2 separate regions of the Homo sapiens genome follow, and region 1 is linked to region 2. Evidence: fine-mapped expression QTL. A gene starts in region 2. The other region holds a variant in brackets. All regions are shown on one strand. Distances are from middle to middle.

Region 1 (5,515 bases), 44 kb after region 2:
GGGCGCGGTGACTCACGCCTATAATCCCAGCACTTTGGGAGACCGAGGCGGGTGGATTACCTGAGGTCAGGAGTTCAAGACCAGCCTGGCCAACACGGTGAAACCCAATCTCTACTGAAAAAAATGCAAAAGTTAGCTGGGCGTGGTGGCCGGTGCCTGTAATCCCAGCTACTCGGGAGGCTGAGGCAGGAGAATTGCTTGAACCTAGGAGGTAGAGGTTGCGGTGAGCTGAGATCGCCCCACTGCACTCCAGTCTGGGTGACAGAGTGAGACTCTCGCCTCAAAAAAAAAAAAACAAAAAACAAAAAACAAAAAACTTAGAAAAATGTAGGCCGGGCGCGGTGGCTCACGCCTGTAATCCCAGCACTTTGGGAGGCTGAGGCGGGCAGATCACGAGGTCAGGAGATCGAGACCATCCTGGCTAACATGGTGAAACCCCGTCTCTACTAAAAATACACAAAAATTAGCCAGGCGTGGTGGTGGGCACCTGTAGTCCCAGCTATTTGGGAGGCTGAGGCAGGAGAATGGCGTGAACCCAGGAGGCGGAGCTTGCAGTGAGCCGAGATCGCGCCACCGCACTCCAGCCTGGGTGATAGAGCGAGACTCTGTCTCAAAAAAAAAAAAAAAGAAAAGAAAAATGTAGTGATGGGGTGTTGCCCAGGCTGGTCTCAAATTCCTGGACTCAAGTGATCCTCCTGTTTCAGCTTCCCAAAGTGCTGGGATTACAGCCGTGGCGCCCAGCACTCACTAAAATTATTTTTGAGTGGAGATATTATTGATTATTATTAGTAGTCAATTTTTTTCTTTCTTTTTTTCTTTTTTTTTTTGAGACAGAATCTCGCTCTGTTGCCCAGGCTGGAGAGCAGTGGCATGATCTCGGCTCACTGCAACCTCCGCCTCCCGGGTTCAATGATTCTCCTGCCTCAGTCTCCCAAGTAGCTGGGACTACAGGCACCCACCACCACACCTGGCTAATTTTTTGTATTTTTAGTAGCGATGGTGTTTCACTGTGTTAGCCAGGATGGTCTCGATCTCCTGACCTCGTGATCTGCCCGCCTCGGCCTCCTCAAGTGTTGGGATTACAGGTGTGAGACACTGTGCCCGACCTTTTTTTTTTTTGAGATGGGGTCTTGCTCTGTCACCCAGGCTGGAGTGCAGTGGTGCGATCTCGGCTCACTGCAAGCTCCATCTCCAGGGTTCACGCCATTCTCCTGCCTCAGCCTCCCGAGTAGCTGGGACTATAGGCGCCCGCCACCATGCCCGGCTAATTTTTTTGTATTTTTAGTAGAGACGGGGTTTCAACGTGTTAGGCAGGATGGTCTTGATCTCCTGACCTCGTGATCTGCGCACCTCGGCCTCCCAAAGTGCTGGGATTACATGCGGGAGCCACCGTGCCTGACCTTTTTTTTTTTTTTTTTGAAATGGAGTCTCGCTCTGTCGCCCAGGCTTAGTGCAGTGGTGCAATCTCGGCTCACTGCAAGCTCTGCCTCCTGGGTTCAAGCGACTCTCCTGCTTCAGGAGAGTAGCTGGGATTACAGGTGTGCAGCACCTTACCTGGCTAATTTTTGCATTTTTAGTAGAGACAGGGTTTCACCATGTTGGCCAGGCTGGTCTCAAACTCCTGACCTCAGGTGATCCGCCCGCCTCGGCCTCCCAAAGTGCTGGGATTACAGGCGTGAGCCACCGCACCCGGCCCAACTATTCAGGTATTTCTATATTTTTCCTGTGTCCATTGTGTATTTTGAGGAATTTGTCCATTTCCTCAAAATTGTCAGGTTCCCTGGTGTAAAGATGTTCATCATGTTCTCTTCTTATCGCTTTGATATTTGTTAGGGTCTGTGGTGATGTTCCCTTTCGCTCCTGATATTGATGGTTTGTGTTTTCTCTTTTTATCCTCATTGGTCTTGCTGGGGGTAATGAATTTTATTAAATTGTACAAGAAAGACTTTTAGTTTGTTGTTTTTCTCTGTTGAATATTGCATTTCTATTTCGTTGACTTCCACTTTTACCTTTTTTATGTCTTTCTTCTACTCTCTTTGGGTTTAATTTACTGTGTTCTTTTCCTAATTCTTGAAAAGGAAGCTTAGATGGTTGATTTTCACACCCTCTTTTCTAATATCTGCGTTTAGAACTAGAAGCTTCCCACGAGGTGCTGCTCTGACAGCCCGCAGGCCTCAAACCTGATGGGTCCAACATGGAGCCTTTGGTGGTGCCCATGAGGATCAGTCACAAAAATACCCAGGCTGAGGGGAGACAAGCAAAATCCAGACCAGCAGCAGGGGTCTGAGGCCACCGGCATGAGGTCCCGGTCTGCATGGGGCTCTCCAAGTTTCAGCACTCAAAGTCCTGCGGCCTGAGAAGCCCCTCAGTACTGGGTACAGCAGCATGGTGGTCACCCTACATCTGTGCAAGTGTAGAAGTGTGTGTATGTGTGAGTGTTAGGGTATAGGTACACACGTGTGTACGTGTGTTAGGCTGTAGGTACACAGGTGTATACGTGGGTGTTAGGTTGTAGGTACACAGGTGTACACGTGGGTGTTAGGTTGTAGGTACACAGGTGTATACGTGGGTGTTAGGTTGTAGGTACACACATGTGTACGTGTGTGTTAGGTTGTAGGTACACACGTGTGTACATGTGTGTTGTAGGTACACATGTGTGTATTAGGTTGTAGGTACACAGGTGTGTATGTGTGTTAGGTTGTAGGTACACAGGTGTATACGTGGGTGTTAGGTTGTAGGTACACAGGTGTATACGTGGGTGTTAGGTTGTAGGTACACACGTGTGTACGTGGGTGTTAGGTTATAGGTACACGTGTGTATGTGTGTGTGTTAGGTTGTAGGTACACACGTGTGTACGTGGGTGTTAGGCTGTAGGTACACACGTGTGTACGTGGGTGTTAGGCTGTAGGTACACAGGTGTGTACGTGGGTGTTAGGCTGTAGGTACACACGTGTGTACGTGGGTGTTAGGTTGTAGGTACACACGTGTGTACGTGGGTGTTAGGTTGTAGGTACACACGTGTGTATGTGGGTGTTACGTTGTAGGTACGTGTGTACGTGGGTGTTAGGTTGTAGGTACACACGTGTGTGCGTGGGTGTTAGGTTGTAGGTACACA[C/G]GTGTGTACGTGGGTGTTAGGTTGTAGGTACACAGGTGTGTACGTGGGTGTTAGGTTGTAGGTACACGTGTGTACGTGGGTGTTAGGTTGTAGGTACACACGTGTGTATGTGTGTTGCTGTGGGTACACACGTGTGTACGTGGGTGTTAGGCTGTGGGTACACACGTGTGTACGTGGGTGTTAGGTTGTGGGTACACAGGTGTGTACGTGGGTGTTAGGTTGTAGGTACACACGTGTGTACGTGGGTGTTAGGTTGTAGGTACACACGTGTGTACGTGGGTGTTAGGTTGTGGGTACACACGTGTACGTGGGTGTTGTAGGTACACACGTGTGTACGTGGGTGTTAGGCTGTAAGTACACACGTGTGTATGTGGGTGTTAGGTTGTAGGTACACAGGTGTATACGTGGGTGTTAGGTTGTAGGTACACAGGTGTGTACGTGGGTGTTAGGTTGTAGGTACACACGTGTGTATGTGGGTGTTAGGTTATAGGTACACACGTCTGTATGTGTGGGTGTTAGGTTGTAGGTACACACGTGTGTACGTGGGTGTTAGGTTGTAGGTACACAGGTGTGTGCGCGCTAGGTTGTAGGTACACATGTGTGCACGTGGGTTAGGTTGTAGGTACACACGTGTGTACCTGTTAGGTTGTAGGTATACACGTGTGTACGTGTGTGTGTTAGGTTATAGGTACACAGGTATGTAATGAAAGTGTGACCCCTGGCATTCCTGACAGTGACGGGCTCTGGGGAGGGAGGGAGAACAAAGCCAGCTCCGACTTGAGGGAGAATGTTTGTTTCTGTAACAACAAAGAGAAATCAGAGGCAAGTAGGATAAAAGTCTAAGATCTGTATTTTGGGTGGAGGGTACATGATGTTGGCTGAGTTTGTGGGTTATCTGAAAATGGAAGGGAAGAAGAGAGCAGAGGACGCAGAGCTAAGAAAGTTGGGACCTTTTTTTTTTCAGCACTACACACACACACACACACACGAACTGCAGGGGGCTCTGGAGCCATGGAGTTAGAAAAGCTCTCTGAGAGGTCAGGTGTAGTGGCTCATGCCTGTAATCCCAGCACTTTGGGAGGCTGAGGCGGGCAGATCACCTGAGGTCAGGAGTTTGAAACCAGCCTGACCAACGTGGAGAAACCCTGTCACTACTAAAAATACAAAATTATCTGGGCGTGGTGGCGTATGCCTGTAATCCCAGCTACTCAGGAGGCTGAGGCAGGAGAATCGCTTGAACCTGGGAGGCAGAGGTTGTGGTGAGCCGAGATTGCGCCATTGCACTCCAGCCTGGGCAACAAGAGCGATGCTCCGTCTCAAAAAAAAAAAAAAGAAAAAAAGAAAAGAAAAGCTCTCTGATCTGCGGCCGGGTGCGGTGGCTCACATCTGTAATCCCAGCACTTTGGGAGGCTGAGGCGGGTGGACCACAAGGTCAAGAGATCGAGACCATCCTGTCTAACATGGTGAAACCCTGTCTCTACTAAAAATACAAAAATTAGCTGGGCGTGGTGGTGCACACCTATAGTCCCAGCTACTCGGGAGGCTGAGGCAGGAGAATTGCTTGAACCCGGGAAGCGAAGGTTGCAGTGAGCCGAGATCATGCCACTGCACTCCAGCCTGGCGAGAGAGCGAGAGTCCATCTCAAGAAAAATAACAAAAAAAGAAAAAAAAGAAAAAAGAAAAGCTCTCTGAACTGGGCTCCCTTCTGAGAGTGAGGAGGAGAGCCGCGCACAGTGGCTCACGCCTGTCATCCCAGCACGTTGGGAGGCTGAAGCGGGAGGATCGCTTGAGGCTATGAATTCAAGACCAGCTTGGGCAACATAGTGAGACCCCATCTCTACAAAAAATATAAAAGTTAGCCAGGCATGGTGGCGTGTTCCTGTAGTCCTAGCCACACTCAGGAGGCTGAGGTGGGAGGATTGCTTGAACCCGGGAGGTGGAGGCTGCAGTGAGCCGTGATTGCACCCCTTGCATTCAAGCCTGGGTGACAGAGCAAGACCCTGTCTCAAAAAAAAAAAAAAAATTAAAATGTAAAAGTTCAGAAACAAATAATTGCACTTGAAAATGAGCAGTAGAAAATGGTCGAATCACAGGTGACATTGTTATGAGACGAGAGAGAATGAGGAGTGGAATTTGTGTAAACGGCGAAGCAAACTGGGAAGCGTGTTAGGAAGGAATCAAAGGCAGCAGCCTAAGGACTCCACGTGTGCCTCAGAGAGTTCAGAAAGTGATACAGGGTTGGAAACTGCAACATGGCCGTGATTACGGATGGAACGTGCAAAGCACTGGGCACCAAAGGCGGCTGAGGGAGAGGCGACGGGGCGTTAGCGCCCTGGGGAAGGAGCCAGCGTGGCTTTTGAAGTGGTCTGGCTGTCTGACTAGCCCAGAGGTGCTGCTGCC
Region 2 (5,000 bases):
AGATAACTATGGTTCTGTCATAAATTCAGATTACGCGAGAGAAATAGCTTTTGGCCAGTGGATGTGCTCTTTTGAGAAAGTCAATTCTGAGCTGAAATTTCATGTTGGAACAGTTTCCTCTATAAGACTCATCTTGAAAGGTTCCCGCAGAAGATAAAATGTCATCCTCACACTGGGCCTGGGCAGTGCGCACTTAACTGGGAGGGGGCACAGGCACCTCAGAACTTAACTGGTTTTCCAAACTCTCAATCTCAAAAAAAAAAAAAAAGGCGGGCGGGGGGAGCACTTTCAGTGTTGATGAAACCAAATGCTCGTAACCTGGGACCACCGCCCAACACCTGCAGTCCAGCCTTCCCCCAGGGTTGACAGCATCAGCCTCTGGACCCTGCAGTTGCAGTTCATTTCTGCGCAGCTCTAATCGTTAGAAAGTTCTGCCTTACCGGCTGGGCGCGGTGGCTCACGCTCGTAATCCCAGCACTTTGGCAGATCAAGGCGGGTGAATCACCTGAGGTCTGGAGTTGGAGACCAGCTTGGCCAACATGGTGAAACCCTATCTCTACTAAAAATACAAAAAATTAGCCGGGTGTGGTGGTGGTAGCTGTAATCCCAGCTACTCGGGAGGCTGAGGCAAGAGAATCACTTGAACCCGGGGGCGCGGAGGTTGCAATGAGCCGAGATCGCGCCACTGCACTCCAGCCTGGGCAACAAGAGCGAAACTCCATCTCAAAAAGTAAAGAAAGTTCTGCCTTAGCATAAACCAAGACAAAACCCACCATTCAGTCCTACCCTGGGGAGGCTCTCAGACCTGTCTCCATGTCAGTGGCACCACCTCCATCCCCAGCCTCGAACCCAGCGTTAGCAAAGAAGGAACCGCCTATCCACTTTCTTGATATACATACCTTCCCAAAGAATCCAGAATAGACTATGCATGTCAATAGCATGAAAATTAAAACCTTACTTTCAATAAAGAGCTCCTCCCTCTCCCAAAAGACTATCACTTCAGATTAGAAAATAACTTATGCAAAAACCTTATCAATAACAATGCTTGCTCCAAAGACCTTATTCAGTATGCAGTTCACTGAAACTTTCCACAAAACTAATACGTCCATTTGCTAATCATGAAAAATAATCTTCATATTTTCTTAATTAATAATCTCACCAGCAACTGCTTAATCACCTAATACTATTTGAGACTAATGTTATCAGATAGATAGCAACATGAAAATACAATGAACCAATGCTCCCCAAAAGAAAACCATAGGTTACCATTTCTACACTATTTACCCATAAGTCCAGTACTGTACACCCTAACTGTAAATGTACACCAACTCCCTTTTCAAAACACAAATTTTAACATCGGCGTTTTCCTTCAGGAGCCCATTTCACAATCTTAAGAAAAAGCTTCCATGAAGACAGGCTGGGCACGGTGGCTAAGGCCGCTAATCCCAGCACTTTGGGAGGCTGAGGCGGGAGGATCGCTTGAGCCCCAGAGTTCGAGACCAGCCTGGTTAACAGGATCTCTTTTACAAAGAGATCCCATCTCTTAAAAAAAAAAAAAAAAAAGGCTTCCATGAAGATGAATTAAGCAAACAAAAGCTGATACTGCTTCTGCATGCTAACCATGTAATTTAACGGACACAAGAAATGTTAAAATATCATTTGAATCAACTATCGATTCACAAGAAAAAATATAGCAGGTTCTTAAAAGTCAAAAGCCTCAGCCGACAGCCCTGTGGAATTTTCAACAGATCTCCCCACTCCCCACCCCCACCCCGCTTCCAGCCGAAAAGCCGATCCAGGCAAGAGGAAGACACCCAGCCTTTGTGCTATTTCCTGTCCTCTCCCCCACCTTCGGGCCTTCGGAATATCGCAAACCGGGCCCCGAAACTCGGCGCGGCGGCGGCCGCCCCACAAAGGCAGCGGTGGGAGCGCCATCTTGGCGCGGCCACCGGGCCCATTCATTCGCGGGGCCGGGCCGGGGTCCGCGCAACCCTCGAGTCGACACGCGCGGGGCGCCAGCGCCGGACAGACCCGGGCCTCGGCAGGAGAAGGGCGAGGCCACAGCGCGACTGCCTCAGCGGCTCGACACAGCGAAAAGGGCCGAAACCGTTATTTTCCCATTTCCCGACGCCGCGCCCGGCTTCCGCTTTAAATCCCTACTCCGACCGCGGCGCGCGGCCCGGCTTCCCCATTTCATTGTTCCCCTTCCCCACGCTCGCGCCCCGCGGCCGCCCGGCCCTCAAAGTCACCCCGATAGGCGGCCCGCGCGGGGGCTCCGGCCGCCGACACCGCCCCGCCTGCAGGCCCGCCCGGCCTTTGTTCTCGCGCCGCGGGCCCGAGAGCCACGTCCGGCTCCCCACGCAGGGCCCGGCCCCGCCCGACCCGCGCCCCCGGGGCCCCGGCCGCCGCCACGGGAAGCGCCCGCGGCGCACACAACCCCGCACCCCGGTGCCGAAACTCGGCCCCCAGCCTTGGGCCTGGGACCCCGGCTCCTCTCCCTAGACCCCGCCCTCGACCCCGACCCTGCACCCCGAACCTCGGACCCCAGCCCCCGGCCCCCCCTTCGGACGCCGCCCGCCGCACCCGGGCGGGGCAGGAAGACGCGGCCCCGACCGGCGGGTGGGGTGGGGGCGGGGCGGGCGCCCCCAGGGCGGGCGGGTGGACGAACAGGACCCGGGTCCGGGGCTGGGGGCTGCCGCGCTCACCTCAGCGCCCTCGTCGCGGCCTGACGCGCCCACACCGCCGCCTCGGCCGCCGCTCGGCAGGTCGTCGCGCTCGGGCCGCGCTGCGCGCTCCGCGGGCGCTGCGGGCAGGTGCGCGCCGGCGAGGCTCGGTCCAGTCCCGCCGCGGCGGCTGCTCCACTCCCGGCCCCGCTCCCCACTCGCCGCCCGCTCCCGCTCCCGCCGCCGCCGCCGCCGCCTCCGTCCGCCCCTCAGACGCCTCCAGCCATCGGGATGGGCGCGGCGGGCCCCTGCCCGCAGCCTCGGAAAACCCCACGCGCTCGCGTCACCACGCACGCCGCGCGTCGCGCGCGCTCGCCAGGCCCGACGGGCACGCGCACGCCTGTGCGCGTCCAAACCGCATCGGGCCCCGAGCGCGTGTCCGAGCGGCTTAAAGGGGCCGTGCTGCTGCCTTCGGGTACCGCTGCCCCGGGAGACCCCCGGCGGCCCGGCCCTGCGGGGACCGGGCGGGATGGGGACCGGGGCAGTGGACCCTCGGAGTTGGGATGGGGCGGGGGGAACGCGGGCGTGGAGCCCTCCGGGGACAGGGTAAGGTTGGGTAACCGTGGGCGGGGGCTCCTCCAGGGGCGGGGGTGGGGTAACGGCGGGCGGGGGGCACTCAAGCGACAGGGCAGGGGCGGGAAGGCCGCGGGCGGGGGCGGTCCCTCCGGGGACGGGGCGGGTGGGGGCACCGCGGGCGAGATCGCTTCCTGCAGAGGAGGCAACAGGCCCCGCTAGCAGGTCAGGGTCCCGGGCAGGCGCAGGTGCCCCCCGGCCTCTCAAGCAGGGACTGCGGCGAGCTCAGACGCGGCTGACGGGCAGAGACTCGCGCTTGGGCTCAGTGCGTGTGAAGTGGGCCTCGGGCTGCGGAGGAGGGCAGCACCCCGTGGCTCCTCGCGCTGCTGCGAGCAGGGCCGCCTGGCAGGGGCGGGGGCCGGTGGGCGGGAGTGTCGGGGTAAGGCCGCGGACTCCTCCCATGCCGCTGAGCAGTGGACAGCGGGGACTGGAGACCTCCAGGTGAGGAAGGGGAACGAAGTCAAGAAGGCCACATGTCCTGGCTTCCAGGCTTGGTGTCCTCAGAAGCCTCCAGAACGTCCATGGAACCCGCCCCTGCGCCCACCGCCTCCTGCTGTCTTTCCAGCTGAGTTCCGGCTGCCCCTCACCCTCGGCTTCTTCACTCTGCCTCTCCCCAGCCAGCGCCCTGCTCCCCGGTCCTCAACCACCACCTTCCACCTGCCTGGGCCTTCATCGCCTCCGAGCTCCCCTTCCACACCAAACCTGGCGTCCGTTTTCCTCCAGGCCTGCACCAGCACAGCTGAAGGGGAGAGAGACCCAACCTCATCCACTGGGCCTCCCCTCAACCAGGGCCACAACCTCAAGGGGCCATGCCACCTCCAACACCTATTTCCCACCTTCTACTCTCTCCACACCCTGGGACACCACCCGCCTCTCTCAGCTGACGTTTTCCTTCTTGTTTTGTGTGCATGGTGCTTGTGTGAGAAAGTGGACACACAGTAAGTGCGGCTTCCAGATGCGTCCGCCACCTGCCCTCCGTGCCACGCGCTTCCCCCTACCTAGGGGAGCCTCCACCAGACAGGGAACCCACGCCTTGCCACCCTTCTCTCTCCCTCCCACTTCACCTGTCCGCATCATTTCTGGAGCCCTTTCTTTCTGGCACGAGATGCTCCAGGGCCCTGTTGTATTCTCCCTGCCCCAGCCTGAACCCAGCTATTTCTGCTGCAGCCTGGTTCATTGTGGGAGAATGTCATGCAGAGCCCGGGATCTGGCTCCGGATGTGCTCATTGCTACTGGGGTGTCATTGCAGCTGGCGGAGCAAGGGAACACATCTATGTACATGCCCACACGCATATGTATACACACAGTTTCATGGGCGTGTTTGTCTGTTTTTCTTGGGCACCACGTGTTTACTCTGATGCCAGGCCAACACTACAGGGCTCAACCTGTTCGGAATGAGGGGCCTCCTGCTTTGGGAGTGAGGAACCTGGCTCTGATTATCTCCTGTGTAACCAGTCTCTCATCCTTGCTTCCACCCCACCATATGCTACCCGCTCCTCACCCTGCGTGGCCTCTGACCTCCGCTGGACCACCGAGGCCCCGCCCCCACAGGGGCGCCTGCCTGCCTAGCACAGTTGAGCAAGGAGTGAATTCCCAGTGAAATTTTTTTAATTTTTATTTTATTTATTTATTTTGGGTTTTTTTTTCTTTCTTTCTTTCTTTTTGAGATGGGGGTCTCCCTGTGTTGCCCAGGCTGGTCTCAAA

Which allele goes with the higher level. Alleles are on the strand shown, and positions count from the first base shown. SD is a standard deviation of normalised expression in the study named.
For the expression in skeletal muscle of the gene that starts at base 2,973 in region 2, allele C in region 1 goes with a higher level than allele G (large effect, 1.0 SD a copy in FUSION).

What was found. PIP is the estimated chance that this variant, and not a neighbour inherited with it, causes the effect. A credible set is the group of variants that fine-mapping cannot tell apart.
Region 1: its variant is the best candidate, but not a certain one, in a credible set for the expression of GNB1 in skeletal muscle (FUSION, PIP 0.71).

What each region holds. Positions count from the first base shown.
Region 1 is chr1:1,931,785-1,937,299 of GRCh38, forward strand. The region is part of intron 25 of CFAP74 (cilia and flagella associated protein 74); the gene reads right to left. Among named protein-coding and RNA genes, the nearest start is that of TMEM52, 15 kb to the left of the region's middle. The variant C/G (reference allele first, on the strand shown) is at 3,116.
Region 2 is chr1:1,888,115-1,893,114 of GRCh38, forward strand. GNB1 (G protein subunit beta 1) reads right to left here and starts at 2,973. Exons shown (of 12, transcript NM_002074.5): 1 at 2,706-2,973. GNB1-DT (GNB1 divergent transcript) reads left to right here and starts at 3,066. Exons shown (of 2, transcript NR_168264.1): 1 at 3,066-3,269; 2 at 3,786-4,612. RefSeq lists an enhancer at 486-985 and silencers at 2,288-2,477, 3,038-3,227, 3,348-3,447, 3,508-3,757.